Regions from separate parts of the Homo sapiens genome. Here all the other regions are reported to be linked to region 1. Evidence: microRNA targets listed by miRTarBase, many of them from high-throughput screens and not tested one by one. Region 1 holds a microRNA gene; each other region holds the end of a gene's coding sequence.
What was found. The annotated mature microRNA hsa-miR-1264 reads CAAGUCUUAUUUGAGCACCUGUU and lies in region 1 at 2,827-2,849, opposite strand. An mRNA with a match to its seed (bases 2 to 7 or 8) in the 3' UTR can be bound and repressed. Matches are read on the target gene's strand: a 7mer-m8 pairs with bases 2 to 8, a 7mer-A1 pairs with bases 2 to 7 and ends in A, and an 8mer does both.

Region 2: miRTarBase lists ZNF555 as a target of hsa-miR-1264. Seed matches in the 3' UTR shown: 8mer at 5,109-5,116, 7mer-m8 at 5,627-5,633 and 7mer-m8 at 5,928-5,934.
Region 3: miRTarBase lists FOXP1 as a target of hsa-miR-1264. Seed matches in the 3' UTR shown: 7mer-m8 at 4,003-4,009.
Region 4: miRTarBase lists CNOT2 as a target of hsa-miR-1264. Seed matches in the 3' UTR shown: 7mer-m8 at 4,517-4,523.
Region 5: miRTarBase lists HEY2 as a target of hsa-miR-1264. The part of its 3' UTR that is shown has no 7-base or 8-base seed match.

Annotation. Positions count from the first base shown.
Region 1 is chrX:114,649,368-114,655,544 of GRCh38, reverse strand. It overlaps MIR1264 (microRNA 1264), which reads right to left and starts at 2,890; the gene lies at 2,822-2,890. All of the region lies in intron 2 of HTR2C (5-hydroxytryptamine receptor 2C), which reads right to left. MIR1912 (microRNA 1912) reads right to left here and starts at 4,001; the gene lies at 3,922-4,001.
Region 2 is chr19:2,852,268-2,858,444 of GRCh38, forward strand. ZNF555 (zinc finger protein 555) reads left to right here. Exons shown (of 4, transcript NM_152791.5): 4 at 113-6,177. The coding sequence ends at 1,685. Among named protein-coding and RNA genes, the nearest start is that of ZNF556, 12 kb to the right of the region's middle.
Region 3 is chr3:70,954,607-70,960,783 of GRCh38, reverse strand. It overlaps FOXP1 (forkhead box P1), which reads left to right. Exons shown (of 21, transcript NM_001349338.3): 21 at 1,393-6,076. The coding sequence ends at 1,537. Among named protein-coding and RNA genes, the nearest start is that of FOXP1-AS1, 330 kb to the left of the region's middle.
Region 4 is chr12:70,352,283-70,358,459 of GRCh38, reverse strand. It overlaps CNOT2 (CCR4-NOT transcription complex subunit 2), which reads right to left. Exons shown (of 16, transcript NM_014515.7): 16 at 3,467-4,631. The coding sequence ends at 4,545. Among named protein-coding and RNA genes, the nearest start is that of KCNMB4, 11 kb to the left of the region's middle.
Region 5 is chr6:125,759,360-125,765,536 of GRCh38, forward strand. HEY2 (hes related family bHLH transcription factor with YRPW motif 2) reads left to right here. Exons shown (of 5, transcript NM_012259.3): 5 at 1-1,910. The coding sequence ends at 443. Among named protein-coding and RNA genes, the nearest start is that of HEY2, 13 kb to the left of the region's middle.

The DNA.
Region 1 (6,177 bases):
AAAAATACACAAGAACTTGAGGAACAACAAAAAGTAATTGACAACTTTAAAATGAACATATCTAGCAAAAGAATATTAACATAGTGCATTAGCCATACTCCAATATGGGCTGAAAACACATTGTAGGAGTATTATTAGGAATAGATAATAAGGTAATCACTACAACATATCAGCACATTTTGACTAATAGATTAGACAGGTGGTTTACCAGACCATTTAAAACAGAAATAGTGCCATGGTAACTTGGTCTGATCCCAGTTTCTCAGTTCTATGAACAACCTAAAGCACACAACTCAAATTAACTGTCATGTTTGTTACTTAACCTAAATACATCACCCTCTTAGAAAAATCTTCAGCATTGTCACCTAAATTCCATTCAGCCTTCTGATTCTTAGTCTCCAGGAAGTCTACTAGTAAGCATCTGATTCCTAATCATACCTTATTCTTTACTTGGCAGGTTTGTGAAAACTGCCTCTTCATTCTTGGTATGGCTTTTTTTTTTTTTCTTTTCTACCCCACCTCTAGTCCTGGTAATGTGTTTTGTAGTTTCATTTAGTACTAAACATTAAGTAGCCAGTATAACCAAATGATAAATTTTTACTGTATATCTCACTTAGATACTAAATGTTTAAATAATTTGCATTTCAACCTCCTTGGGAAGGACATGTATAGGCAGGAGAAATACAATACTGACATCACCTCCTCTAGGAAGCTTTCCCTGACTGACTCCTCTACCTTCTAGCTGGGTTCGGAGAACTTTCATGTGTTCACAATGTATCCTGAGCTCATTCTTGCTATAGCACTTCAACACAGTATATTAATTGTCTGCTCTATTGCCTACTTCTCCCAATAAAATGTTATCTCTTTGAAGGGAGGGATTGTGTCTTATTCATTGCTGTATCTGCAGCTCCTAGTACAGAACCAAGTATTAGGGTACAACTTTAGTTAATGAATAAAAGAACAATGTGGGGTAAAGTTTCAGTGCCAGTAAAAAAAAAAGAAAAACAGCCAACCAATAAAAAATTATTCTACAATTATGGCAATTGAAAGGACACTGGTGATGGTTACGTAAGCTTTAACTCTTCAAAATATATCATTAAATATGCATACCAAAGCTTTTGATTTGAATTTGTTTTTAGAAATTTCATGAATTACACACTTCTAACTGATGATAATAATCACCATTACTAGGTAGGTACCATGAGTTTTTAGCGAAAAAATTATATATATGATATATATGTTATATATATATGAGTATATATACATATATACACATATACACACATACATCTATTATTTTATTGTTTTTTAAGTTAAGGGGTTTTGGAATCTCATGAGGAATTAGTTACAGTAACTAATAAGCAAAGAGCAGAAAACAGTATAATTTTCATAAATCAATTTTTAAAAATTTTATTCACATCTTCATTTATCATAAGTTGGATCAATAGACTTTCTAATCCATTTTACTGTCTTCAGATAGACAAGATATTATTAGTCTCGTATTATATCTAAAGGCTCAGGAAGGTTAATTCACTGGCTCAAGATTACACACCTAATAAGTGCTGAAGGAGTATGAGACAGACAAGGTTCTGCAGCGTAGTAGCAGAAATATTGCAAAAGAGTGAATAAAATAAAAGCTGACCACATTTTATTTTAGTATGCACTATGTACATTCAGAAGTCAGATTAATCTTCCTATACTGATTTTCTTAGATTAGTATATTTAAATGGGCTGACTTTTCCAAAGCGGGTGGCTATTACTTTATTCAGCAAACATTTATATGGATTCCAATTCAACCCTATAGAAAGTGTTTGTAGCTAGATATAGAATGGTGAACAAAGCCTGCATAATCCTTGTACACTTAATAAAGAAGAAAGATGAACAAGGAGAAACAGGAGGGAGAGGAGGGAAAATAGGAGGAGAATGCACATAATAAGGTTCTGTCTGATAAATGGCAAAGTCAGTAAGAAGCAAGTTGCATGAAAAGGGGATGAGAAAACTAGCTTAGAGTCAAAGTGATCTGCATATCACTTACAAGACAGGCATAAATATTTTGGGTGGGACAATCAGTTTGCTTTTCTCCTAACACTCTCCCTAACCTGATGAAATTAACTTTTCCTGATACCAACTACTCCTCACAAAGATGTCCTAGGAGGAAATAGAAAGAAATATGCTAAGATCTTTGATCTTCTCAGGAAGAAAAAGGTTAAAAATAAATAAACTATTATTTGACATATTTAATAGGAATTTTTAAATTAGACATAACTGAAGTTATTTTCATTATTTAAATTAATTTTTAATAACTTAGGCTAGAAATTTAACCCAAAGAATAAAATGATGGGCAGAGTAATTACTGAAACATTTTGGATACGCTGCCTATAAATTATATAACGTAGTAAAGAAAAAAAAAGCTAAGTGACAAAGAGGCTTGCAGGAACCTAGACTATTTCATATTATATCAATGTAATGTGCAAATGAAGTTAAGAATGGATGATTATAACAAGATTTATTGATGATATAATTCTTGTTTTAGTTTATTGACTGTCTTATAATAATGATTTAATAATATTTATATATTCGCTCAAATTTCTACAATAAATACTTTTGTGCACTTGATTCTTACTAAATCCCAAGCTCAAGTCCTCTTTTCTCCCCAAAAGTTTCCCAGATGAGAAATAATCTGGCCTTCCTCTAACCTTTTCCAATTCTTTAATTCTTATCACAGACTTTCAGATATGGCGATCACTTGTGCATTCTCCTTATATTTCTTCTCTCCCATACTAGATCATAAGGTCTGTCTGGGTCGTAGGATTGTATCCTCCACATAACAGGTGCTCAAATAAGACTTGTTGGTTTATTTATTCTTTCAACAAATACTTATTGAGGACCTGCTATATGCCAGGCATGGAGAAACACAATGTGTTGAATATGTTATGATATTTTCTTTAAAACTATTAGACCATAATTTTCAGTTTGATAATATTTCAGAAAATGCCGCAATATTTCTAATCAGCATGTATTAAAATGTTTCTTTCTATATAAATCCATTTCCCACCTCTATTCCATTTATATTCTCACTTAAGTGAACTTCTGTTATTTTTCTTCCACTTATAACATTTCTTATTCATGTTTTGGACTAGGCCTCTTAACAAGTACTTCTAAATATTTGGCTATTAGGTGACTAAGTTTAGTTTTGGTTCCTGATACAAGCAAGGAGACGCAAAAAATAAAAATAAATTTTCTAATTATAAGGAATATAGTCAGGACTGCATCAAGTACATTTTATACTTGGAATTATATGCAGAGATCACGCAGCTTTCCAACCAAACAAAATCATTCTAACAGTCTAGGAAATTTTTTTTCCTATTTCAAATCAAAGACATATGATCTACTTAGAATTGTTGAAGTAACAGATTCTCATTATAAAAGAAAACACCTGGAAATTATGTGAAATTTTAAATAAATGGGTTAAAGAAACATCCAGTTAGCTGATCACAAGATGATATGTTCACTGATATCATCATGAGGTAAAATTATACTATGGAGATTTCAATTATCATCTGTAAATAGCATCTGATGTGTCATCAAAAGAAATTTCAACATGATGAAAGATCATAATAATGTTCTTCCAAATGTATTTTTATAGTTCTATTAAAAGAATGCTTCTAACTGCTACTGAAAGCTAACTTTGACTATTCATGTGAAATTTCAGTAAATTTTTAATGTAAATAAAAGAGGAATAAAAAATGTATTATAATAGAAGCAACATGCAAATTTAAGTTGTGAGTTTAAAATTTCAGTTGTGGAATAGAATTTGGAAGCATAGTTAGTAAACAGCTGAAAATGGAGAGTTAAAAAAATCTACATGAAGTACAAAATTACTCTTTAAGAATTCATGTTTTACCCTTCTGGCTGTCTTTCAATCTCTATTATGTTCACACTGCATGCTCTGGGTATTGAATAATACTATACACAGCCCATGCAATGAGCACATCCTAGAGCCAAGTCCAGTTGTGATAGAAGGCTCAAAGGGTGGTATCATTTGATCAAATTTTAAATGTTAAGTAAATTTGAAATGATTAATTTTGAAAGTCAAAAACTTAGCCAAAAGATTATAGGATTTTAAAGCTTGAAGAGACAATATCTAAGTAGTCTCTTACCCTCTAGCCATACCCTCTACCCTCTTCCAAACCATACCAGACAGATGAATATCTATTCAAAAGGAATTCCAAATTTATCTGGGAACAACTGGGATAACTTATCAGAATTTATAATCCCTAATATTAAACATCTTTGTTCATCACATCCAAATTAAATTATTTGCTTTGAAGACTAAACCAAAAGTAGTGTCATGGAAAAAATATTGGCCTTAGAACTGAGAAAACATAAATAATAACTTATAACTATCTGTCTTTGAACAAGTCAGTTAAATTCCCCTAGCCTCCGTTTCTATGCCTGTAAAACAGGGATAATCATAAATGTAGATATCATGTAAAATACTAACGGAGTTCATACATGCAAAAGTGTTCTGTAAACTGCAAGAAGTGAGCAAATATAATGGATTATTATTCTGGGGTAGTTAATACTGCAACCCATGTCACCATTTTCTCCTCTTCATAGGTTTTATTTTCTAATCTTTTCATCATCTTACTGTGTCTTTGAAATCTTTCCAAGAGCCTCTACCTCACTGTTCAATTCGACAGCCCTGACTAGATTTAAGATTCAATAGAGCAGCTGGATGGTAGCTATTTTGATTACTTATTATTCTTACTTCAATAGAAAGCAAACTGAACAAGACAGATGAGGAACTGTCTACAAGGGAGTTTACAATATGGGGCAGAAAGAGGGAGATAATAAAGAAGAGAACAAATAAAGAAGAAAATTGTATACAGTAATAATGCTGTGAAAGATAAAACAGATCAACACAAGAAATGGGAGTGAGTAGTTTGGATGGCATGATCAGGATGGAACTCTTCCAAGCAGTCACATATGACATGAGACTTGAAGAATGAGGATGATCTAGTCATTTGAAGAAATGGAAAACTAGTGTTCCAGAGAGAACACCAAGTACAAATGACTTTAAGGTGAGTGTGAACCACTGTGACAAAATGATTTCTAAAGACTGAGATTAGGGAGAAAACCCTAGGACCATATTATTAACATGTTGTATGCAATGATAAGGAGTTTAGATAGAAAGGCATTGAACAGTCTTAAGCATGGAATGATGTGTTAAAATCAACTAAACAACTAATATTCAGAATGATTTCTGAATCCTCTTAATACATTAAACTGGGGCCTCTTTTACCATCTATATGATCTGCAAATTGGACTTGGGAATTTTCCTTTCATCTGTTTAGTAAACATTAATTTTCATTCATATGGTACTTTGCAATAAAGTAATGACTTAGACATTAAATGTAGTCAAATTAGAGATTTATGCTATCCACTTTGTGTTCATTCTCCAGATCTGTCAAAATAGACAGAAACGTCAAGCTCATGCTATTTCTGTTTCATAGGAAGTCAGGCAAAATTCTGTATACGGATGAAACTATGTTTCCTACTCCTCACCTGTTGTTCAGTTAGAAATGACTGAATGGTGATGCTACACAAATCTTCAAAACCAGAGAAAAGGCCGGGCACGGTGGCTCACACCTGTAATTCCAGCACTTTCGGAGGCCAAGGCAGGCGGATCACTTGAGGTCAGGAGTTCGTTACCAGCCTGGCCAACATGGTGAAACCCCATCTCTACTAAAAATACAAAATTAGCCAGTCGTGGTGATGCGTGCCTGTAATCCCAGCTACTCAGGAGTCTGAGCCAGGAGAATTGCTTGAACCTGGGAGGCAGAGGTTGCAGAGAGCCGAGATCACGCCACTTCACTCCAGCCTGGGCGACAGAGCAAGACTCCATCAAAAAATTAAAAAACAAACAAACAACAACAACAAAAATAAATAAAAATAAAAATAACACAGAAAAGATGAAAGATTACCTTTGCTCTGTGACCACAAGAATTTCTTATGTTCCTATGGCTAAAAGCCTTGCTGGTGTCCCCCAATTCAGAAGACACAAAGCATTCTTCAGAGAAAACTGCATTAACAGTGTTTACAGTAGGATAAACACTGTGTTTCTTTGTACTGAAAGAAAGCCTGCTGTACCATATTGTATTGGGAATTATCAAA
Region 2 (6,177 bases), not on the chromosome of region 1:
ATGGGGTGAAAAACCTATGCTTTCACTGAAAATGGTTAAGATGCAGTCCTAATCCTAATAAATACTAACAAATCATTATTAATCAAACCAATAACATGCTTCTCATTTTTAGTAGAAATCATGGGTTGGAGAGACTCTGTGAAAGTAATGATCAATGTGGAGAAGCCCTCAGCCAGATTCCACATCTTAATCTGTACAAGAAAATTCCACCTGGAGTAAAACAGTATGAATACAACACGTACGGAAAAGTCTTCATGCATCGCCGCACATCCCTCAAGAGTCCCATCACAGTTCACACTGGACACAAACCATATCAGTGCCAGGAATGTGGGCAGGCCTACAGTTGTCGTTCACACCTAAGAATGCATGTGAGAACCCACAATGGAGAGAGACCCTATGTGTGTAAATTATGTGGGAAAACCTTTCCTCGTACTTCCTCCCTCAATCGGCATGTAAGGATTCACACTGCTGAGAAAACCTACGAATGTAAGCAATGTGGGAAAGCCTTTATTGACTTCTCAAGTCTTACTAGTCATCTCAGAAGTCACACCGGAGAGAAGCCATATAAGTGTAAGGAATGTGGGAAAGCTTTCAGTTATTCCTCAACGTTTCGAAGACACACAATAACACACACTGGCGAGAAGCCATATAAATGTAAGGAATGTGCGGAAGCCTTTAGTTATTCCTCAACTTTTCGAAGACATATGATTTCACACACTGGAGAGAAGCCACATAAATGTAAAGAATGTGGGGAGGCCTTCAGTTATTCTTCGGCTTTTCGAAGACACATGATAACACACACTGGAGAGAAACCCTACGAATGCAAACAATGTGGGAAAACCTTCATTTATCTCCAGTCCTTTCGAAGACATGAAAGGATTCACACTGGAGAGAAACCCTACGAATGCAAACAGTGTGGGAAGACCTTCATTTATCCCCAGTCCTTTCGAAGACATGAAAGGACTCATGGTGGAGAGAAACCCTATGAATGCAACCAGTGCGGGAAAGCATTCAGTCACCCCTCCTCCTTTCGAGGACACATGAGGGTGCACACTGGAGAGAAACCCTATGAGTGCAAGCAATGTGGGAAAACTTTCAATTGGCCCATATCTTTACGAAAACATATGAGAACACATACTAGAGAGAAACCCTATGAATGTAAGCAGTGTGGGAAAGCCTTCAGCTTGTCTGCTTGCTTTCGAGAACATGTGAGAATGCACCCTGAAGACAAATCCTATGAATGCAAGCTATGTGGGAAAGCTTTCTATTGCCACATATCCTTACAAAAACATATGAGAAGACATACCGCAGAGAAACTCTATAAATGCAAGCAGTGTGGGAAAGCTTTCAGTTGGCCTGAACTTTTGCAACAACATGTGAGAACGCACACTGTAGAGAAGCCCTATGAATGTAAGGAATGTGGGAAGGTCTTCAAATGGCCATCATCTTTACCAATACATATGAGACTGCACACTGGAGAGAAACCTTATCAATGTAAGCATTGTGGGAAAGCATTCAATTGTTCCTCATCCTTAAGGCGACATGTGAGAATACACACTACAGAAAAACAGTATAAGTGTAATGTAGGACATCCTCCTGCAAATGAATTCATGTGCAGTGCTTCAGAAAAGTCACACCAGGAGAGAGATCTGATCAAAGTTGTAAATATGGTGTTGCCTTTATGAGTTCCTTATCCTGAAAGTGGACACTCAAGGAGTGTGTCTGTAGTTCATTTGCAAATAAACATTTAGTTGAAAAATAATTCTCCAAATACTCTCAGCTATCCTACATGAATTTGAACAGGTAGTTTCTTACGATTCAGTAAATAAAACTTTCATCTTAGAGTGTTTTGGACTCATGGATGATTTGAAGTGTATTTTTAATATGCAAGTAGGTTCAAGTTTTATTTAATTTCTTAAATTGTAACTGACTTAGTGTGACAGGTATTGGATATTACGTATCTATTATATTTTCCACCTTTTTTACTGGGAGTATTTTTATTGTTTGGCCAGAGGAGCCTTATTCCATTTTTTAAGAAGTAGTTGGCAGAATTTTGTAATTATGCAAAGTTGTTTAAGGAGTATAGCCTCAAATGAATTGTAATTTTTAATGTTTGCCCATTGCTGTTTGTCTTTGCTTGTGATTGTGAATTGGACAGTAGGCTTTGACTTGTGATGTGACGGAGAAATCCAGAGTTGCAGATAGTTCTTCTGCATTGTTGTCAGTGTGGGTAGTGTTAGGAACTTCATTTGCTGGAATGCATTTCCTTTATGGTTCCATGTCCAAATTTACCAATAGCAATAACTTGAATGAAATTTAGAATGAAGAAGAAGTAAGTCATCGCTGAGCTTTTGGGGTCACATTAAATGGAGATGGACAGATGCATAGGGGCTTTGTGAACATCAACCTTCAGCTTATTTTCCAGATTCTTATTCCTGCCAATCAAGAGTACCATCAAAAGAAACACTTAAGTGCTTGATTTCCACTGTGTCAGAGGTGTAGTCTTCCTCAGACATCTCCATTAACTTGATATTAGGGATATTCCTGTGTGGTCAGTCACCTAGAGTCTGGATTTTTCTCAAAACCCTGCATGACCTCTTGACCACTGATTCAGACTGTCTTGTTTGGCAGTCTCTGAGCTTCTGATTCTCCCGTTCTGTAGATCTTAACATATTTGCATGGGGTCTAATTTATATAGTGAACACCTTGTTATCTTAATACTTCCAGTGGCTCTGTGATCCTGATTCCACCACGAAAGCCACAGTGTTGCAGTCAAAGAAGAAAAACAACACATGGGACTTTGTACCCTATTGCATTTTTAAGTGTGCCTGCCGAGTCCTATGTGAGAACAAATACCTTCCTCATATATTAGATTTAGGGAGATTTCTGTTACTCAGAACTAAATGCAGTTTCTTGATATAGGTTAAATTATTAGGTTTGATTATGTATCATTAAAAATAATGTGGATTTTGTTTCAAGGAAAACCTTCTGTAGATATTTCTTAGAAATATCCTGTTTAGCTGGGCACAGTAGCTCATGCCTGTAATCCCTGCACTTTGGGAGGCTTGAGGTCAGGAGTTTGAGACCAGCCTGGTTAACATGGTGAAACCCTGTCTCTACTAAAAACACAAAAATTAGCCAGGCATGGTGGTGAGTACCTGTAACCCCAGCTACTTGGGAGGCTGAGACAGGAGAAGTGCTTGAACCTAGGAGGCGGAGGTTGCAGTGAGCCAAGATCACACCACTGCACTCCAGCCTGGGAGACGGGGAAAGACTCCATCACACAAGCAAGAAAAGAAAAAAAAATCCTATTTACTGTGCTTTCAAATTAGTTGTTTAGAGACTATATTAATTTCCCAGGGCTGCCATAACAAAGTACAAAAACTGGGTGACATAGGAAAACAAACTTTTTGTTTCTCAGTTCTGGACCCAGAAATCCAGAAACAAGGCATTGGCAGGACCATGCTTTTTCTGAAGATGCTAGGGAAGGATCTGTTTCAGAACTCACCTAGCTTCTGGTAGTTCCTTAGCTTGTGGCAGCATAACTCTAATTTTCACATGGCATTCTCCCTGTGTGTGTGTCTCTCCATGTGACAATATTTTTATACATACACACCACTCATTGGGTTAGGCCCCACTCTACTTCAGTATGATTTTACCTTAACTAATTACATTGGCAACAGCTCTCTTTTCGCATACTGAGGCACCGCGAATTAAGATTTCAACGTAAAAATTTTAGGAGACCCAATTCAACCCATAACACTAAGAAATGTTATTTTTTGTTTACCGAGAGAATTACAGATTTCAAATCAACTTTGTAATTTTGATAATTTAAGCATGTTACATTTTGAATCAGTATTACCAAGTATATACAAATACAGGTATTTTTTCATATAAATGTTATTTTTAATTGCTGTATACTTAACATTTGCCATTAAAATGATTTTTTTTTTTTGAGACAGAGTCTCGCTCTGTCACCCAGGCTGGAGTGCAGTGGCACGACCTTAGCTCACTGCAACCTTCATCTCCCAGGTTCAGTTGATTCTCCTGCCTCAGCCTCCCGAGTAGTTGGGATTACAGGCATGCACCACCACACCCAGCTAATTTTTTTATTTTTGGTAGAGATGGGGTTTCACCATGTTGGCCAGGCTGGTCTTGAACTCCTGACCTCAGGTGATCTGCCCACCTTGGCCTCCCAAAGTGTTGGGATTACAGGCATGAGCCACCACACCCGGCCTAAAATGATTTCTTATTTGTGGTTAATAACAATTAAAAAGCGGAAATAATGGTTTTGTCAAGGCCCTCTACCCAGAAACCACCAGGATCACACTGGTAGTCAAAGAAAATTTGCTGTGTTGAGTTGAAGTTTGAACACATGATCAAGAAAGGGCTGTGGCTTGTATCAGAGGGTGTTTAAAAGGATTTACTATCAGATTTGGCCTTGTGTTCTGTGATTTTGGTGAGCGTTCAAGGAAGCCAGGCTTTGGTCTGGATTGGATGTTCTCAGGTCATGAATATAATTCTCTGGGAACTCCCAAAGTTCTCATCTACAAAGCAGAAGTTAATTGGAGCTGAAAACTAATCAGTAAAGCCACAGCAGCCAGTCATATGGGGGAGAAGAGGGGAATGTTTGATGGTTTTTGTGGTTTAGAGGTGAGTTCCGGAAAAAAAGAAGACATGTTTGACATCCTCAAACGAGAAAATTTTTCATGTGTTTTATAGGCCAAGGAGGCAGAAGCTTTTGTTTTAATGAGCCAGAAAGCCCCAAAAGCCTATTTAAGTTTTCTCAGGTATCATTTCAACCTCTGAACTTCCAGAATTAACTAGGGAAGAGGAAAAACATGTAACACCTTAGAGTTTTATTAAAGAGCAAACAATATCCAGTAATCTCCATTACTTTCCATGTTAACATAAGTTTTCATAACGCTCTATAGATGAATGTGATTTGGCAGTCACTTGTATTTCTTAACACCCACTTACCCATCATTCCCTCTTAGATGAAAAAAGTTAAGCACGGGGACAACAGAGTCTTGTATATTCATGTAGCTCATGATGATGGAATCAAGTTTGAAGGCTTAACCTGTGCTTAACCTATATTGGGCATTGTCAAGACTTAAATTTAGAACACTGGAAAGCAAGTATAATTAATTTTACAAATAGGGCATCAAATTTTACAAAGACTCCTAAGGCTATATGGTATTCCTTTTATAAGACATGGAAAAGGCAAAGATAAGGGAAACGAACAAATCGCTGGTTAGAAGTAGGGGATTTGAGTACATATGGGCTTAAGAGTGTTCTGTCATGATTGTAGTGGTGAAAACAAGCATTTGCAAAAACTCATAAGGCTACTCTTAAAATAGCAAATTTTGTTGTATGTATATTTTAAAGTTAAACAATAAAAATGCTTTCAGTTTATTAAAGAACTCAAGACCAGGTGCAGTGGCTCATGCCTATAATCCCAGCACTTTGGGAAGCTGAGGCGGGAGGATTGCTTGTGGCCAGGAGGTTGAGGCTGCAGTGAACTATGATCATGCACTGCACTCTACACTGGGCGACAGAGCAAGACCCTGTCTCAAAAAAAAAGGAATACAAAACATTCCTGAAACTTGACATGTAAGTTCGCAATAAGACTTTTCCCTAGCTGGGCGCGGTGACTCATGCCTGTAATCTCAACATTTTGGGAGACTGAGGCAAGAGGATCACTTGAAGTCAGGAGCTAGACACCAGTCTGGGCAACATAGCGAGACCTCAACTCTACCAAAAAATTAAAAAGTGAGCCAGGCGGGGTGGTGCACGTCTGTGGTCCCAGCTACTTGGCAGGCTGAAGCAGGAGGATCACTTGAGGCCTTGAGGAGCCATGATCGTGCCACTGCACTCCAGCTTGGGTGACAGAGCAAGACTGTCTCAAAAAATAAAAATAAAAAAACAAGACTTCCCCCACCATCTTGGAATTCTCTGGAGGAAATGTAGGGCTGGTTGACAAGGACTTGTGCCTCGTCAGACCCTGTTTGAAACCCAGTCTGAAGTTTTGAAACACCCACAAGGGCCATACCTGACTTTATCTCACGCACATAACAGGAGAGAAGAAGGAGGTCTTCCAGAATCTGTCTTTGAGTTTACACCAGGTTCTTCCCATCTGATCTTTGGGAATGCTGTGGTTCTGAAACATAAAACGGG
Region 3 (6,177 bases), not on the chromosome of region 1:
TAGAGTCAATTGATTCTGAAGGTTCCTGTCTTCAAGGGCAGTCCAAAGCACTCCTCTGTTTGTTTTTAAATGGTTCAAGGGGCCTTTGGGGTTTGCATACAGCATCAATTATTTAGGAAGCCAACCATCCCCATTACCACCTCTTATTACTAATACTTGATAACGTCAATTTAAAAATCTTCCCTTCTGCAGCCTGTCCCAGAGATGGGACCATTTTAACTCAAATGGTTCTTTTACATATCAAAAGCCCCTGCAACAGAAAGTCATTTGTATATGCAAAGGATCAGTTGTAAATATGATTTACGAACAACATTTCTCAATAGTTATCCGAGCGGTTTTGTGTGATCACCCCAGTCCCCTTTGGGTGAACCATGCGCTGGTCCATAATGAGAAAGTTGGCAGACCTCATCGCAACCACGCTCATCCCAGTGGCTGCTACCAGCCGGGCCTCATGTTTTGCCTTGTTTACAGCTGACAGCGTTATTATTCTGATTGGGGCTCTGCTTTCTTATCATATTGTTGTGTTGAGCGAGCCTTTTCCTCTACGTTTGTGTTTCCTGGCAGGGCTTTTCTTGCCTTATTGACAGTTTGTAAAAATATGCATTAATTTGGAGTTTCAAGCATGTATATCATGGTGTCTCTTTGCTGTGTTTGCTTGAAGTTGATTAATGATAGAACCTCGCTTGGGGTCGTCCTCTGGAGAGTTCTTTCACAGGTTCTGCATGTTAACTAGCAAAGCAGAACACACAGCAAGCCATGATTAGCCCAGCCTCCTCTGCTCAGTGGTCCCCACAAACTGCCGTTGCATTACAGATTCTTATTTCGTGTAATTATTTGAAGATGGGTATTCATCCACCCAGGATGCCACTACGGGACCTGTTATCTGGTACTCAGTGTGGTTCTAGGACCACCGGCATCACTTGGGGGCTTGTTAGAGATGCAGAGTCTCAGGCCCCACCCCAGACCTGAATCACACACTGCATTTCAACAAGGCCCACAGGTGACTGCAGCGTGTGTTAAAGTATGAGAAATGCCACCAGGGAGGAGAGGCCCACACCAGTCCAGAGACTAGTGATTCAGAGCATCACTACCCAAGAGAACTTTACGCAGTGATGCAAATGTTCCGTCTGTCTCTGTGCTGGCCAGAATTAACCGCTAGTCACATGGGGCCTTTGAACATAAATGTGGCTAGCACAACTCAGAAACTGAATATTAAATGTAGTAAGATTTCGTTCATTTCAATTTAAAGAGCCACGTGTGGCTAATGGTAACAATACTGGACAGAGTTCTAGTTCTAGAGTGCGGCTTTTCTGTTGCCCCAAACTTTTCAGTGCACCTGAGCTGCAATGGGCTGGGAAGTACCCTCACTGAACCTCTGCATATTTTTTCCAGGCATCCTGTACACGTCAAAGAAGAGCCCCTCGATCCAGAGGAAGCTGAAGGGCCCCTGTCCTTAGTGACAACAGCCAACCACAGTCCAGATTTTGACCATGACAGAGATTACGAAGATGAACCAGTAAACGAGGACATGGAGTGACTATCGGGGCGGGCCAACCCCGAGAATGAAGATTGGAAAAAGGAAAAAAAAAAAAACACGTCAAAAGTTAGCAGTGAAATTGTTCTCCATTTGTTGTACAGTCTGGAGGATTTTCACTACGTTTTGACAACTCTGAAATGTGTTAACTCTTAGTGCCATCAAGAACCCCATTTGGGAGTATTTTTGATTTTTCTACTTTTTGTTGAAAAAAGGAATTTGTACTCTGTGCATTGGATGGACTTGTTTGGTACTTGGGATTTTCCTCTCTTAACCGTCAACATCAGTGTTGTAAATTTGCTAAACTGATTCACTTTTAGCAGCAGACTTTGAACTGCAGTCCTGCCAACGTTGGACACTGAGGACGCCCGACAGAGCTTGTGCACCTAAGCTGCAGACCAAGCCTTTGCCCAGAATTTAAGGATTCCAATGGACGACCTATTTGCACAGTACTGCATGTTGATTATCACTGCCTTTACTCCTTTTTTTTTTTTTTTTTTTTTTTTTTTTTTGCTTCCAGTTGGGATGGGGAAGGCCTTTGTGTGTGTATTGGGGGGAGGGGTTAAAAAATAATTATCCCAAACTTTTTAATGTATTGCTTTTTTTTTTTTTTTTTTTCCTTCTACTATACCATTTTAAGTTCTGACCTCAGGCCTCCATTTGGGCCGATGGCCTCTTGGAGGCTTAAAGTTTTCTGTACCTTGTGATGAATGTTAATAGGTGTTTTTATTATACAAAGCTGAATGTCATTTCTCGTTTGTAGCTTTCTGTCACTCATTCCATCTTCCTTCAGACATCACCACGTTTCTCTAAAGTCAGAAAACATTCCGTTTTGGTCTTTTTCAAAAAGGTCCCAAATGCTGCACTCTACACATGAAGGCCCTCTCACACAGACGTGACGTCCTGCCAGAAAGAGAATGAATGACAGAAAAAAAAAAGAGAGACAAACTCTAGGAACAATGCCGATTCATTCCACGCAGCAGTATTGGGGGTGGTTCGGGGGAGGGGTGTTTCGGATTTTCTTTTTTTCTTTTCTTTTCTTTTTTTTTTTTTGCAGCAACCATTAATAAATGCCACCACATTCTACCAGCACAAGGAAACATAGGCAGCACTGAAAAAAAAAAAAAAGCTCATATTAATTAGACTGACAATATGGCCTTGGAAGGCTCTCCCTTGTGGAACCAAGTTGCCATGGGCCTTGGGTGCTCTGCGATAACGGGTGTGGGTTGGTTTTGTTTGCAAAATGGCCAAAAAAAAAAACCGGCTTCCCCGAGCAGCTGCCCTGAAAGTAGGGGTGGCGGCGGCGGCGCTGAGTTTATACATTAGTTCAGACCTACTTGGTGGCATTAAACTGTTTGAATGCAAATTCGATTTCAGATTGAACTTGTTAAGGGAGTTAACGAGGGCTGAGTTCAGCAAATGCTAAAGTGTTAATTTCAAATATGCAAATTTGGTACTGCAGTTTGTTATGCAATATTATATCACCAACCCAGTATCACAAAAACTCATAGAAGATATCATGTAGGCCCTGGGCTTTGGGGGGGTCCCAAACATGGTATGCAGAAATGTGATGGTTACAGGTCAGTACAACCTCAGTCCTTAGAACCCCTCCACACTTCAGCTCTGCACCCACTTTCCTGTCATTTATTTATATAGGACTGTAGTTTTTTTTAGTTCGAGAGCCTTTCGAAGCTTAATTTATATTCTTTCTTTGTACCTTTTTTCTAAAATTACCAAAGATATTACACAAAGGTAAATTATGTTCTCTGTTTTATGCTTTATCTGATGAAGCCAAATATCCTCTTATTGTTGATCAAAGGAGGCAAAAGAATTTAGAGGCAAATGACAAGCGATAGGCTATTGCAACCTGAGAAAGAGAACTGCTCCTTCATCGTAAATTTAGAAGACCAAGTAGATAATGGAACCAAAGTTGTTACTTTTTTCTAGTAGTTATTTTTCCTTTTTCTTTTTGTGTACCTCTACAGAGACCAAAACTCATTCTCTTAAAGAGATTTTATGGGGCTACTGCAGATAAAAATAGGACACAATATTAAAGGAGCTACAGAAGGAAGGGAGTCCCATCTCAAAAAAAAAATGAATGTATGCCACTGCAATTAGAGTATCCAATAAAGGAGACAGTTTAGAGTCAGGACAGAAAAGCTTCCATAATTGAACTAGATTACATAATAGTATTTCTAGAAAAAGAGATATTTTTAGATTGTATGCCACTTTTGTTTAAGAACTGTGCTGTGATCACTGTATTAATTTTGGTTTATCTTGGCATATATCCTTCAGTTTGTTTTTATTTTTAATTTTTCCTTTTTTTCCGATTAGGCTTTGGTCAGCATTTTTCATTTAAAGAAAAGTAACACTCCCATCCACTCATAAGCTTGGTACAAAAACTTCTCTGGCAGTTACTTTTGAAGCTTCACTCTGCTTTCTGTATAAAGGGCAGTCTGTGGTCACGCAAGACTTTAAAAAAAAAAAAAAAAAAAAAAAAAAAAAAAAAAAAAAAAACTTTTCCAGGCAGCTTCATGATGTGCAGGCAGTAGCCAGACAGGGTCATGGGAAGGGGGCCCTGTGCTTCTAAACTGAGTGGTTGCTGGTTAGTTTGGTATTCAAAAGAGGATAAAAATCTGGTAGATTAGTTCATTCTCAGCATGTGTAGCTAGACATGAGTAAAGATAACAGCATGAGAAACTGTTAGTACGCATACCTCAGTTCAAACCTTTAGGGAATGATTAAAATTTAAAAAAAAAACATTTCACTCAGTTGCACTTAGTCGTATGTCTTGCATGCTTAGTCTAAAGACTGTAGCAAAAAAAAAAAAAAAAGAAAAATTAGATTTTACATATCTTTGCAGGTATCACAGCCTTGCAGAAGAACCAACTGAAAAAAAAATTCTCAGGCTTTACAGCAAGCAAACTTCACTATGATTTTTACAATTCTGATTCTGTATCCCCTGGGGGTTATCCCAGTTGCTTCTTTAGGATGGGGTTTATTACGTTGTACATATATCCCGATGTGTCTGTGTGAATCTTTGTCTTTTTTGGGGGAGGGCAGAGGGCGGTTCTTTTTTTAGATATTGTTCCTAAAAAGGAATAAATGCATACACCTGTTTGTCAAAACACCTTTGCTTTTTGTGCAACTGCTTTATATTAACGATACTAAAAAAAAATAGCTTTGGAAAAAAAACTACTGTATGTAACGGAATTGCAGAATATGCTGCACATGTATTTTATTTAGTTATCCTTGCTTTAAGAATATTGGATGACATTTCCTGACATGTGGGAGGGAGAAACTCCCTAACTTTTTTTTTCTGCTTTTAAACTGTAACATAGTTGAAGATTTCTTTTTTCTGTTCTCATTGATTGGAGCATTTTGTACAGGTTTTGTGTGTGTGTGTGTGTGTGTGTGCGCGCGTGCGTGTGTGTTAATCTGTTTTTTGATACATTCCTATCCCTTGTGTTTATCCTACCACTGCCTTCCTGGCTATCTTAAACAAGTTCATACATTTGAAAAGAAAAAAAAATGTTGTTTAAAAAATGTTTTCTCCTGCTGCAGTAAATATTTTGCATGATGAAATTCCAGGGTCACACTTTTCCAAGTTTATCAGTGAAGTAGTGATTAACAATGGGGAGTGTCAAAACTATTGAACTTTTGTATAAAAAAAAAAAAACTTTACAAGGTGCCAAGATGTAAAGAAAATCTGTTACTTTTTTTTTCTCAAAGAAAAGCATACATTAGGGAGGTAGTCCCGTGTGTCAGACAAATGCACTGTCAGGAATGAGGATCCAACCTACCTGTCCCTAGAGTCCGTCTTGTAAGATGAGTTAGGCTGCCCCTTGGACCAGCCACAAAATGGAATATCAAGGCTTATGTACATACGTGAAGAGTTACCACCAGTCCTGCCACCTTTGGACAGCTCTAACACCATCCCCAGCATCCAGTCAGACCTAGTAAAGAAAACCTTGGATTCTTAACCCAAGATAGGCTGTAAATCACTAGCTTTTTTTTCCTCATGAAAAAAAATAGAGTTAAAAAATATTTCCTCTCTTTTCCATATTCCAGCTGAACTCCGTTTCCAAAGGCACAAAGAAGAGTGTGCTTATTCAGATTTTGAATCTTTTTGGTACCTTTTGGTTAATGACATAGCCTCCTGAAATTCTGGATGTCTTCAAAGTCAGTTTTGCTTCTTTATCCTGAAAATCAGATTTACAATGCTGAAGGCATTTCTTGGGCCCAGTGTAGCTCACGCAATCTCTGCTACCCATAAGCCTTGATGAAGATGATACAGTCCGGACTGTGAGCATGGTGCTTCATGTATATGTGCTGCCAGTAACAAGAATTTTTTTGTTTTGTTTTGTTTTGTTTTGATAAGGCATAAAAGAAACTCATTCCTTGACATCAACTGTAATTCCATCATTCCATGTCTGCGGATACAGACAATAAAAAAAATGTTGTGTAGTCAGTACTAATTACTGACATTATAAGCATTCTCAAATGCAATAAAAATGCTGGTTGTTCACGCTGGTAGTAAAAGTTGCCACAGCCTAAGTTTGTTTCCCTTTCTGACCTGCTGATATTGTATGTTAGGCATATGCCTTAGGTTTATCACCAGCTGCTTCCAATGCAGAATTAAA
Region 4 (6,177 bases), not on the chromosome of region 1:
AACTAATTGAGAGTCATTCAGTTTGTTTGCACATTGACTGAACCTTTACTTCATGAAGCAGCTAGTACTGTGTAGCACCTTAATATAGAAAAAGTCTGTTTCATTCAACTTCTCCTTATTGGTTTGAGACTTGCCCTATTCCAGTTCTTCCTGTGTTTGATGACAACTGTCATGCCTCCCCTTAGTATTCTTTAGTTGTCTCCAAGACCTACATCTCATCAATTCTAAGATGCACGTTCTTTCTTCACATAATAGATACATTCTGTAATTGGCAGCTTGTCTTAGTGGTACATAAAATGGTGTCCCTTACAATTGATGGCAATTAGATTTGCTGAAATACAGTAATTATCTCACTTACTTTAACACTTTTTCAATGAGCCACAGGAACATTAAGACATTCAACTCCTTACCTTATGCACAGAACACTATCCAGCCAGTCTCTCCTAGGTTATGTCCTATGAAGTTAAATCTAACGCCTTACAAAGCAACTGATTTAAAAATCTGAATTAACTCAGTTACTTTTTAATATTGCACTGAAATCCCTTATTTGTCCTAGTTCTGCTCTTCCAGTCACAAGAATGAGCTTAATTGCCTTTCATTGACAGCTCTTGAATTTGATACCTGAAGACAAATACCATGTTTCCAAAATTGTATTCCTATTTGTTTTTAAAATTTACTCTAAAATGGGAACACTAAATTTCACCTCATGATGCTATTCTTCAGACAACAATGTATATAAAAACACACAGCATTTGCCAGGCAGCTAGAAGGCATGCTACTTCTCCATCCCCTTCTGCCTTCCCCAGGCATGGCAGCTCTTCTAATACAGCATTCAAACAGAAGATGACATTTCAGATGAGTGATTACTTCCAGTAGAGTGGGCTTCCTATCTTTTTCTGAGTGCTATATTTTTCTTAATGTAGCTGAAGATTACATTAGTATTTTTGGCAACAGGATCACAATTCTTACTGATCTATATATGAACCACTCAAATCATGTTATATTCCACCATTCTTTATTAACAATCAAAGTGCAAAACTAAGTAATTTTCTTGATTGAATGTATCCTATTTGATTCAACTCTACACACCAAACTACTTGGTTAGATTTAGATCCCAATTTTAACCTTCAGTGAGTTTATTTGCTTCATCTTCCAGATCTGTCATGTATTCATGGTATAATCAAAGTCACTGGTAATGCCAGTGGCAAGGAGACAGCCTTGTGACCTGCCATTAGGATCCAACTTTTAGAAAGTAAAGGCATCTCAATGTCTGGCTTAGTTCATTCTCCAGAGACTATCTCAATGGAACCTAGTTAGTAGATATTTCTAGATCTTATTAACTACATAGACAAACCATGGTTAATGTATTATACAATCCTGTTTCCACACACGTATAGGTTTTCAGCAACTTTTTGCAAAATTGAGCTATTAAATCTAAGTTAAATGAAATGAGTCCTACTGTACAGCCATGCTCAGATGCCACATATTTTATGAGCAATGGATATAACAAAGTGGAAGATCTATGGCTTGTGAATAGAAGAGGATTTATCAATTAGAGAAGCTATAGACTGGAAAAATTTGAAATATTTAAAAGTTATTGAAAATGCTTAAAAAGATTATTGTGAAAATGAAATTATAGCAAATGATAATTGAGTAAGCTATCTCAAAGCCCAATGCTTTATACTTTATTTTCAAATTGAAATATCAACTTTTATCAGTCAACAACTATCAAGCACCTGCTTTGTCCCAATTTCAGTGTCAAAAAGAAACAGACTAGTTATATATACTTTAAGAATTAACATAAACTTTCAGTTCTTAAAATGTATTATATCTAAGGAAAACTATTTGTGTAGTTAAGTCTCTGAAAATAGAGCTTTAGCATATAAATTATAATACCACCTAAATAATTATATTTGAAACCAAATAAAGGATTTCCCTTTGCAATTAAATAGCTTTTATTCCCAGAAAGCCAATCATAGTTTAATCTAAAAAATTTATTTAACATAGTGTACACATCTATTTCACTAGCTATATAGGGGGAAATTAACAGAATTAAAGCTTTGAAAGAAAATGTGAAATATAATTAGTTGGATTCAGCCTCTTTACATGTATAACCACGTTATAAAATCAAGGCGTATTATAACTGTTACATTTAAAAAGTTCAAAGTAGTGTTTTAAATATTTCAAATAGAGTAATTTGTATTTTGAAGTCCATAGCATGGTAATTTCTGATATTAACAAGTTATAAAAAGTTGGCTAACATGCAAGAGTTTCTTCATTTTGATGATTCAGGATAAAAAGAACTCAAAAAAATGGAAAAGTGTGCATTTAAAACTCTGTATATGGCAGTTAACAAAAAAAGAGAAAAAAAGATTACAGCCAAGACAACAAACCACTTGGTATGAGCTATCTTATTTTTCGGAGTCATTCATCAGTACCAGTCATGATCACGCTTCAGCTGAGACTTCAATCTATATTGTTGTTTATATTCATGAGAATAAAGATCCCCTTCCACATTTTTCTTCCTACTTGTTTTTTGTGGTTATGTAGGAAAAATTACATTTTATTTTACAAAGTGAATTACTAGGAAAAATGTAATCTTTTTTTTTCTAGATTGATTTCTATGCTTTGACTCTGGTTTATGTCAAATAAGGTATAGTGTTCTGTGAAGGTTTGTGCACAATAGATAAAATGATTTATATAGTGCTATCTTTCTTACTGAGGAGATGCTTTGGTTTAATTATGAAAGATAGAAAATCCTGTTTTTTATAGTGTTTCTCATATCTCAAAATGCATAGAAAAAGGTAAATTTTAAGCCACTTTATATTCCTGGTACACAAACACAGCAATGTCATAAATGTTTCATTTTCAAAAGATTTGGTTAATGCCAACAGACTTTTACTCTTCATAGAAAAATAGGTTAAAAATGAAAATTTAAAGGATCAAAACTCATTGCCTTTTTTCTACTCTCTAGTTCTGCTTTGGAAGCTTCAATCTTCTGATTTTTAAAATACAGTATTTGTATTTAGATGGGAAAAGAATCCACTAACTTGTAAATATGAGATATCTAGGCCAGCAAACTGAAGGTAAAGTCTACCCATTCCCACCTTATGGCTTACCTTCATTTGCACATTACTTCTTAAAGATAAATTTAAAGGTCTATCAAGAAATTTCTCATAAATTTTTCACAGAAGTACTTTGGTTGGGTTCCAAGAGTATTCAGAATGTTTTATTTCTAATGCTGCCACAACCCATTTAAAAAAGTTTTCTCTGATTAATACTGTCTACATTTTTAACCTACAAGTGAAACGGTTCACTATATTTCCATTAAATTACTTGTTGGAAGCTGAAAAAGACATTTGAGTCACACCATTCAGTTTGATATCTGTAAAACTTCAGTTTGTTTCCTCTATTTTTCATGTTGAAGAAATAATTTCGCAATTTCAAATCAAAGCCAACACTGCAGTGAGGAGAGCTTTTCTACTTTATTACAAAGAGAAGAAGCCTTTATGTGGTCAGAAAATACAAGATTGATCTTTTTTTCTCTTCCTATGAAACGCTGCTGTTCAAACAGCCAGAGTGAATTGTCTCAGTTCACTTCTTTTAAGTCCCATCACATTCACTTGGGTATGGATGTCCTTGGCTGCTGAAAATCTGGCCCTTTTAGTGCACAGGGCGACAAAGTCCCCTGACCAGCAGTTCCAGAATGTCCCATTTTCATATATTGCATCCATGCACACCTCCTAAAAATGAGGTACAGCAGGGCAAACATTTTCCAAAATAGATGTCATATATATAATATATACACATTCGTACATACATACCTTTATTCATGTGATGTCCAAAAATTTAAAAAAAATGTACACATTTATTACAAAATCGTAACAAAGACTGGACAGTGTTTTGCTCATTCTGGAAAGATGAAGCTCAGTAATAACACAACCCTGGAAAACCATCCAGAGATTGTGGCAATATCTTTCTTCTAAACAGTCAGATATTCTTGCATTAAGCTTGGCGAAACTGCCTTTCAAAAACAGAAGGGGAAGTAAAATGAAGGAAGCAGACCTCTTGCTCATCTTTCCAAATGAAATACGAGAAGGATCTTCACATAAAAATGCACAAACATTTGTTATTTTATTACCAATAGTGCTACAATGAACAATGCAAAATTTGTGGTCTAATTTTCTTGAGTCTTTTGGGGGTTTTCTTTTTTACATTTTAGAAACTATGGTAAACTTCTGTCAGTGTATTTGCTTGTCTTTACAGACTCAAGTCTGTCTGCTGGCAAAAAAGGAAATAAATGAAAAAATTCAGACCCTGCTCAAACTAGAGAAAAACAAATTACAAATTTAGTTGTTGGGCAGCACATAATTAGTAAGGCAGGACCTCAAATGGTGACCTTTTGCGTAAGCCAATTGCCAGATCCTCAAGGAATTAAAACCAGGGTGCCTGAGCCACATCAGTTCTGCAGTTATGTTGAGTATTGTGCTGAGACAGCCATACCCCAAGAAAAGGGAAGTCTTTTTTTTTTTTTTTTTTTTTTTTTAGAAGGCTTGCTGAGCAGGGTTGTAGTTGAAGGTGGATGGCAGGTGAGGCCGTTCTTCTAATTTGTCATATTCCAGATGGAACTCCTATAAAAACAAATTCAAGAATTTAGATATCTTCCCCTTTTCATTTTACATTTGTCAAAATACATTTTACTATAAAAATAAATAAAATACCCAATATATATGAATCAACATCAACACAGATATACCAACTGTTTTTCCTCTACATAAAATACAGCTTGAAGAAAAATAATGTGCTGTAGTTTCTAACCAATGAGTACAAAAAATACAGACAGGCTTTCTGTGTGTAAGTCAAGAGACTACTAATGGACCACTTGACACTGAAATGTTGTGTATTGTTTTTAACTTAAAAAAAGAGGGGGCAATTACTGTATCTCTGAATCACTGGAAATTACAGGATATTTAAAATAAAGCCCCCTTCAACGAAGTATAAAAACCTAAAGATTTTGTCCATGAAAAAAGTTTAGAAATAATTTTCCAAATTGTCTTTATTACATTTATATTAAAAAATAAGCAGGGCCGCGCACAGTGGCTCACGTCTGTAATCCCAGCACTTTGGGAGGCTTAGGTGGGCAGATCACGAGGTCAGGAGATCAAGACCATCTTTACCAATCAACATGGTGAAACCCCGTCTGTACTAAAAATACAAAAATTAGCTGGGCGTAGTGGTGCACGCCTGTAGTAGCAGCTACTCAGGAGGCTGAGGCAGGAGAATCGCTTGAACCTGGCAGGTGGAGGTTGCAGTGAGCCAAGATTGCACCACTGCACTCCAGCCCAGATGACAAAGCAAGACTCCGTCTAAAAAAAAAAAAAAAAGGAAAACACATAAAATTATTCTAACCTCATTAAAATCTGGGGAAAATAATGAACTTAAAACTCACACATCACTAGACTTGCATTTCACAAACCCAAAACCCTGACTCAAATATAAATCAACTGCCACCGAAAACTAGACAATGGTTCTGCTGTAGGAACATTTGAAAACTAGATAGCAGCTCACTTTAATCAAACTTTCAAAATACTGTATTAACTTCATGAGTTTTAAAATTTAAGAATGGTGACATAATTTCTTCATGATACTTCCCACCCAAGATCAAGAATAGAGATGCAGAATAGCTATGTATATTAGAAAAAAATGCAAACAACAAATACCTCTGCAACCCCAATAAGCAAGAGGCTCTAAAAGCCTCTTACCAATTCTACCATCTGAATTAGCACAAATTACTGCATAATCCAACTTAAAGAATTATGAAGCTTAATATGTATTATGTATTAAAGATTAAGGCAACAAGTGACATTAGCTACCATGGGTTAACATATTTTACCTTATCTGTCTGGTTTCAAACTGATTCCATGATGAGTATTTCCATTATTAAATTAAAATGAAAACCTAGACTATAATGACCAAATTTTAAGATGGAACACCAAGTATTTAAAATTTAAAGATATTACACTTAAATAAATTTAAAGATATTACAGACCTAACAGCAGAATTTATTGAAAGCCTAGTATGTGCTAAAATTAGAGATACAGCTAATTTTATTCTAATCTTTGTAATAATTCTGTAAAGCAGATATCATTATTTTCATTTTGTACCTGAAGAAAATGA
Region 5 (6,177 bases), not on the chromosome of region 1:
ACCTGCCCGCAGCCCTGCTCCAGCCCAACGGCCTCCATGCCTCAGAGTCAACCCCTTGTCGCCTCTCCACAACTTCAGAAGTGCCTCCTGCCCACGGCTCTGCTCTCCTCACGGCCACGTTTGCCCATGCGGATTCAGCCCTCCGAATGCCATCCACGGGCAGCGTCGCCCCCTGCGTGCCACCTCTCTCCACCTCTCTCTTGTCCCTCTCTGCCACCGTCCACGCCGCAGCCGCAGCAGCCACCGCGGCTGCACACAGCTTCCCTCTGTCCTTCGCGGGGGCATTCCCCATGCTTCCCCCAAACGCAGCAGCAGCAGTGGCCGCGGCCACAGCCATCAGCCCGCCCTTGTCAGTATCAGCCACGTCCAGTCCTCAGCAGACCAGCAGTGGAACAAACAATAAACCTTACCGACCCTGGGGGACAGAAGTTGGAGCTTTTTAAATTTTTCTTGAACTTCTTGCAATAGTAACTGAATGTCCTCCATTTCAGAGTCAGCTTAAAACCTCTGCACCCTGAAGGTAGCCATACAGATGCCGACAGATCCACAAAGGAACAATAAAGCTATTTGAGACACAAACCTCACGAGTGGAAATGTGGTATTCTCTTTTTTTTCTCTCCCTTTTTTGTTTGGTTCAAGGCAGCTCGGTAACTGACATCAGCAACTTTTGAAAACTTCACACTTGTTACCATTTAGAAGTTTCCTGGAAAATATATGGACCGTACCATCCAGCAGTGCATCAGTATGTCTGAATTGGGGAAGTAAAATGCCCTGACTGAATTCTCTTGAGACTAGATGGGACATACATATATAGAGAGAGAGTGAGAGAGTCGTGTTTCGTAAGTGCCTGAGCTTAGGAAGTTTTCTTCTGGATATATAACATTGCACAAGGGAAGACGAGTGTGGAGGATAGGTTAAGAAAGGAAAGGGACAGAAGTCTTGCAATAGGCTGCAGACATTTTAATACCATGCCAGAGAAGAGTATTCTGCTGAAACCAACAGGTTTTACTGGTCAAAATGACTGCTGAAAATAATTTTCAAGTTGAAAGATCTAGTTTTATCTTAGTTTGCCTTCTTTGTACAGACATGCCAAGAGGTGACATTTAGCAGTGCATTGGTATAAGCAATTATTTCATCAGTTCTCAGATTAACAAGCATTTCTGCTCTGCCTGCAGGCCCCCAGGCACTTTTTTTTTTGGATGGCTCAAAATATGGTGCTGCTTTATATAAACCTTACATTTATATAGTGCACCTATGAGCAGTTGCCTACCATGTGTCCACCAGAGGCTATTTAATTCATGCCAACTTGAAAACTCTCCAGTTTGTAGGAGTTTGGTTTAATTTATTCAGTTTCATTAGGACTATTTTTATATATTTATCCTCTTCATTTTCTCCTAATGATGCAACATCTATTCTTGTCACCCTTTGGGAGAAGTTACATTTCTGGAGGTGATGAAGCAAGGAGGGAGCACTAGGAAGAGAAAAGCTACAATTTTTAAAGCTCTTTGTCAAGTTAGTGATTGCATTTGATCCCAAAACAAGATGAATGTATGCAATGGGATGTACATAAGTTATTTTTGCCCATGCCTAAACTAGTGCTATGTAATGGGGTTGTGGTTTTGTTTTTTTCGATTTCGTTTAATGACAAAATAATCTCTTAATATGCTGAAATCAAGCACGTGAGAGTTTTTGTTTAAAAGATAAGAGACACAGCATGTATTATGCACTTCATTTCTCTACTGTGTGGAGAAAGCAATAAACATTATGAGAATGTTAAACGTTATGCAAAATTATACTTTTAAATATTTGTTTTGAAATTACTGTACCTAGTCTTTTTTGCATTACTTTGTAACCTTTTTCTATGCAAGAGTCTTTACATACCACTAATTAAATGAAGTCCTTTTTGACTATTTTTTATGTGGATGAGTTGCTTTGCAGAAAAGTTTCCTTCCACTTTCTATGTGGAAAGTCAACATGAATTTCAAGAGGTCTTTATTTACTAACGATCCAAGCTATGGCTTTTCTTTATGTCTTTCAAAATCATTTGATATAATTCACAGCTTGCCTGAAAATAACATTTATCTGAGCTTGTAAACTAAGCATAGGCAGTAAGATACTTGGAGGCAAGAAATAATCAGTTTCCTCTGCCTTTTATTCTTAACTACAGTTCTTGGCAAAGTGCAAATTCAAGACTTCCAAATGGTATACCAAATATAGGATAATAAGCTAGAACATGTCATACATGTTGTAATTCAAAAACATTTGTAGAGTGTTTTAAAAACATCACATACATACATGATAGGCGTGTACATACGTCCTAATGATAAATCCCTTGTGCTTCAATGACAATTTCTTTTGTTGCTGTGGAGATTGTATGGGTATTGCCTCTGCTTCAGTGAGGCCTAAATAAACCATCATAGAGCTCCTGAAGCTATTGGGCCAAACAACATAAAAAGAATGAAAGTGATTTTTATTATGCTTATCAATTTGTTCAAAGGAAAAAGGAGGGCTTTTATATTCTGGTTTTGAAAAATCCAGCAAGTAGTTTAATTTCTGTCTGTAAGTGGGTAATGAAAAGGTCGAGGGGAGGCAAAAGCAAATCACCTTGTTTCTTGTGTCTATAAGCCTTGTGGTTCTTATATTTTCCAGCTGGCTCTAATAGAATGAGGTAGCAAATAAGAAAATTGATTTCGTTGTCTTAGGTGTTTGCTTTATAATCATGATTTGTGGACAACAGCCATATAATTTTTACTTTAAGATCTAAAACCTGAATGTATTCCTATTGTAATGTCAGCATTCAGAGAACTTCTTTTCCTTTTTTGAAATGTAAACTTTTAGAGATCAGGAATTTAAAATTTATTTGAATTAAATATTTTAAGATAAATTCCTTTCCTTCCTCCTTCCCTCCCTTTCTTTTACTTTTTGTTTTTTCTTACATTTTTTATTGCAGGTTATATATGTATTATTATTTTTCTTTTTTCTTTTTTTTTTTTCTTTTTCAAGACAGGGTCTCACTCTGCTCACTCTGTCACCCAGGCTGAAATGCAGTGGTGTGATCATGGCTCACTGCAGCCTTGACCTCCGAGGTGCAGGTGATCCTCCAACCTCAGCCTCACGAGTAGCTGGGACCACAGGCATGCACCAGCACACTCGGCTAATTTTTGTATTTTTTGTAGAGACAGGGCCCTAGTATATTGCCCAGGCTGCTCTTGACCTCCTGCGCTCAATTCATCCATCTGCTTCAGCCTCCCAAAGTGCTGGGATTATAGGCATGAGCCTTCATGCCCAGCCAGATTATTATTTTTCAATTCCACTGACTAAAATATTTGCAAATGAACTTGCAACATAGTTAATAAGAAAGTGTTCCTAAAGATAATCGTTGTCAGTAATTCAATCATTTCAAGTTAATTATGATCAATGTTTCATATGATCAACTTGTAGCATCACATCTCACTGTTTATATTAACCTGACCACCGGAGGTTGCCATCTCCCATCCAAGTGTTCTGTGAAGGTGGTATTCCACCATCAGATGTGGTAATTCTCATGTTTGCTACCAAAATAGAAAAAGAGTTATACCCTTTAAAGTTATTTTAGGGAAAAAGAATTTTCAGGGTTTGATTTATTGATGGTTGCTTTTATTTGTGTAAAAGTCCCAAAATTAACTCAAAGGATTTTTAGTAAGATAAAAGGAAAAAGGTAACACTTTTAGAAATTTGTGTTTTTCCAACTGTTTAAAGCTATGTGCATGACTAATTAGAAATTTTGTTTAAAGTTCACGTCAGTGAGCCAGAAGGTATTTTTTTAAAATAACTGTTATGTGGCCCAGCATTGCACTGTATATGTTGAGTTTTGCATGGTGTATAGTAGCACATCAAAGTACAATCCTATAGACTGATAGTGATAGGTATGGCTGCCACCCTAGCTATTCACAGGGGTTCTCAAAAGAAGGAGGTGCACTAAAAGTGACAAAAGGAGATTCTGGGAGCTAGGGGGAGGAGGCTTTTTGCTCTTCTTTGGATATTTTACTATCACAAATATGATACTGCATTTTTGAAGAAATATGAGAGACCTTTAAAGTGATGTTGAAACATTAAAAAGTCAAAATATATATATTTTTTGAGACAGGGGCTCCCTCTGTCACCCAGGCTGCAGTACAGTGGTGTGATCATGGCTCACTGCAGCCTCAACCTCCTGGGCTCAGGTGATCCTCCCACCTCAGCCTCCCAAGCAGCTAGGGAAAAGTTCAAATATTAACCAGAGAGATGGCTCTCCTATGCACCTGTGCATAGGTATTATCAAACATAATGAAGCCTTTTGGATTATCTTTCTTATATATTCAAATTGTTCTTTTTGCCAATCATTAAGTTACCACAAAGTCAGACTAATCACCTTAGGTAACATCATGAGAAAGCAATATGATTTTAGAATTCTATATTTCCGTGAGTCTAAGACTCCATTAGTTACAAGATACACTATTGGTTGAAGATCAGTTTTTAAAGAAAAAGAACCACTACAACATAAATTTACACATTGACCATAAAACTTCCTAATTGCTAGAATGTAAAAAAAAAAATTTCAATGGCATCTCGGATTTTAGGCAATACAATAACACAGTATTGTACTCCAATGCAATTTTAGAAATTCATGGCTAGAGTTGTACATAGATTAAAATGTGGCTGTTCTAGCTTACTTTTAAAATGTCTCAATAAGATAGAGTCCTACCTAGTAAAATCAAAGAATCTAGATTGACTTTGTAAGCCTAATGGTCTAAAGATAGATGCATTTTTTAAACTTTTTATTGCCCAATGGGACTGCTTCTAGTTGTTCTGCTGCATTTTACTGAAGAATGGAGTTTGACTTCCCCTTATAATTCTTTTAAGATCTAAGCACTGACTGAGGCTGTGAATATTTCAGCAACTACAACAAAGCATTGCAGCAAACATGACATCATAAACTGTGACTATAGCTCATATTATTTGGAAGGCTAAATCTTTGAACTTGGTTGGGAGATCTTAAGAAGAAGAAAAGCCCCTGAGCTTACATAGACAGTCTTGCGTGAGGGGCCAGAGGCAGACGGGAAATGGTTCTCTAGGCATGAGGTGGTGCTTTTTCCCATGGCTCCCTTACTTCTAACTTCAAAGGAAAGGAAAGGAAGTGGTCAGGGAATCTGCTCTGACTGTGGGAACCAGTACCCACTGTAAGGTGCAGGTCTGAAAAAGAAAATCAATTATGATACTAACTGCTAATACTGGTCAGTTGTTCTCTATACTAAGCCCCATGCTAAGTGCTTGAAATCTGTTTCTTCATTTAAGCCTCATAACTGTCCTGTAGAGTAGATAATAGTTTACTTACTTACATATTAGGAATTGGAGAATAAAGCTTAATTGTCCAAGGCCATTCCTAGCAGGTTGAGCTTTGAGTTAAACTATCTGAAAACTATCTGATACTTAAATTCATACTTTTGACCTCTAGGCTGTGGCTTTTGACACTGCTTTTTTGGTCTCAGAGTTATCCAGACTCCCCCAGGATTTCAGCCTGCCTAGGATCAGTTTGGACTAAAGATGACAGTAAATCCAGCTACAGTATTATCGTAAAACCACTTCCATCTCACTCTTTTAATATATGAAAGGATGAAAAAAGGAATAACTCCACTTTATAATGCAACATAAAAGGGAAATTATTTTTGGCAGTTCTCTAGTTTTAACTCAACTTTCAATCAAGTCACACGTATCTTTTCTTCATCTATGAGCTTAATCTTTAAAGGCTACCAAAGAAAATTCTATCATCTCACTCAAAGTGGTTGACAAAGGTGTGGCAAAATGGTGAAGTATTAAGGTACTAAGCAAATTGAGTTTGAAAAAAAAAATCATTTCCAATCTTCCATATCTAAAAGATAAGAAATTGTTGTTGTTGTTGTTTAGGGAGAATGCTGGATTATTCTGAATGTTTATACACCATAGGTCCATATGCCATAAAACAAAATTCTTCATTTGACCTATGAAGACCTGTCCAGTAACCCATTCACTTTAATAATTCTTGTTATCAGAAAGGGCCTTTTAACTGACCTAACTCTTCAGCCTAGAGTTAAAGAATGTTTTTGATAGCAGTTAACAGTTAATACGTGTATAATTTTTCAAAAATCTTATGCCCAGAGACGTTTTTAGATGCCTCTAAGT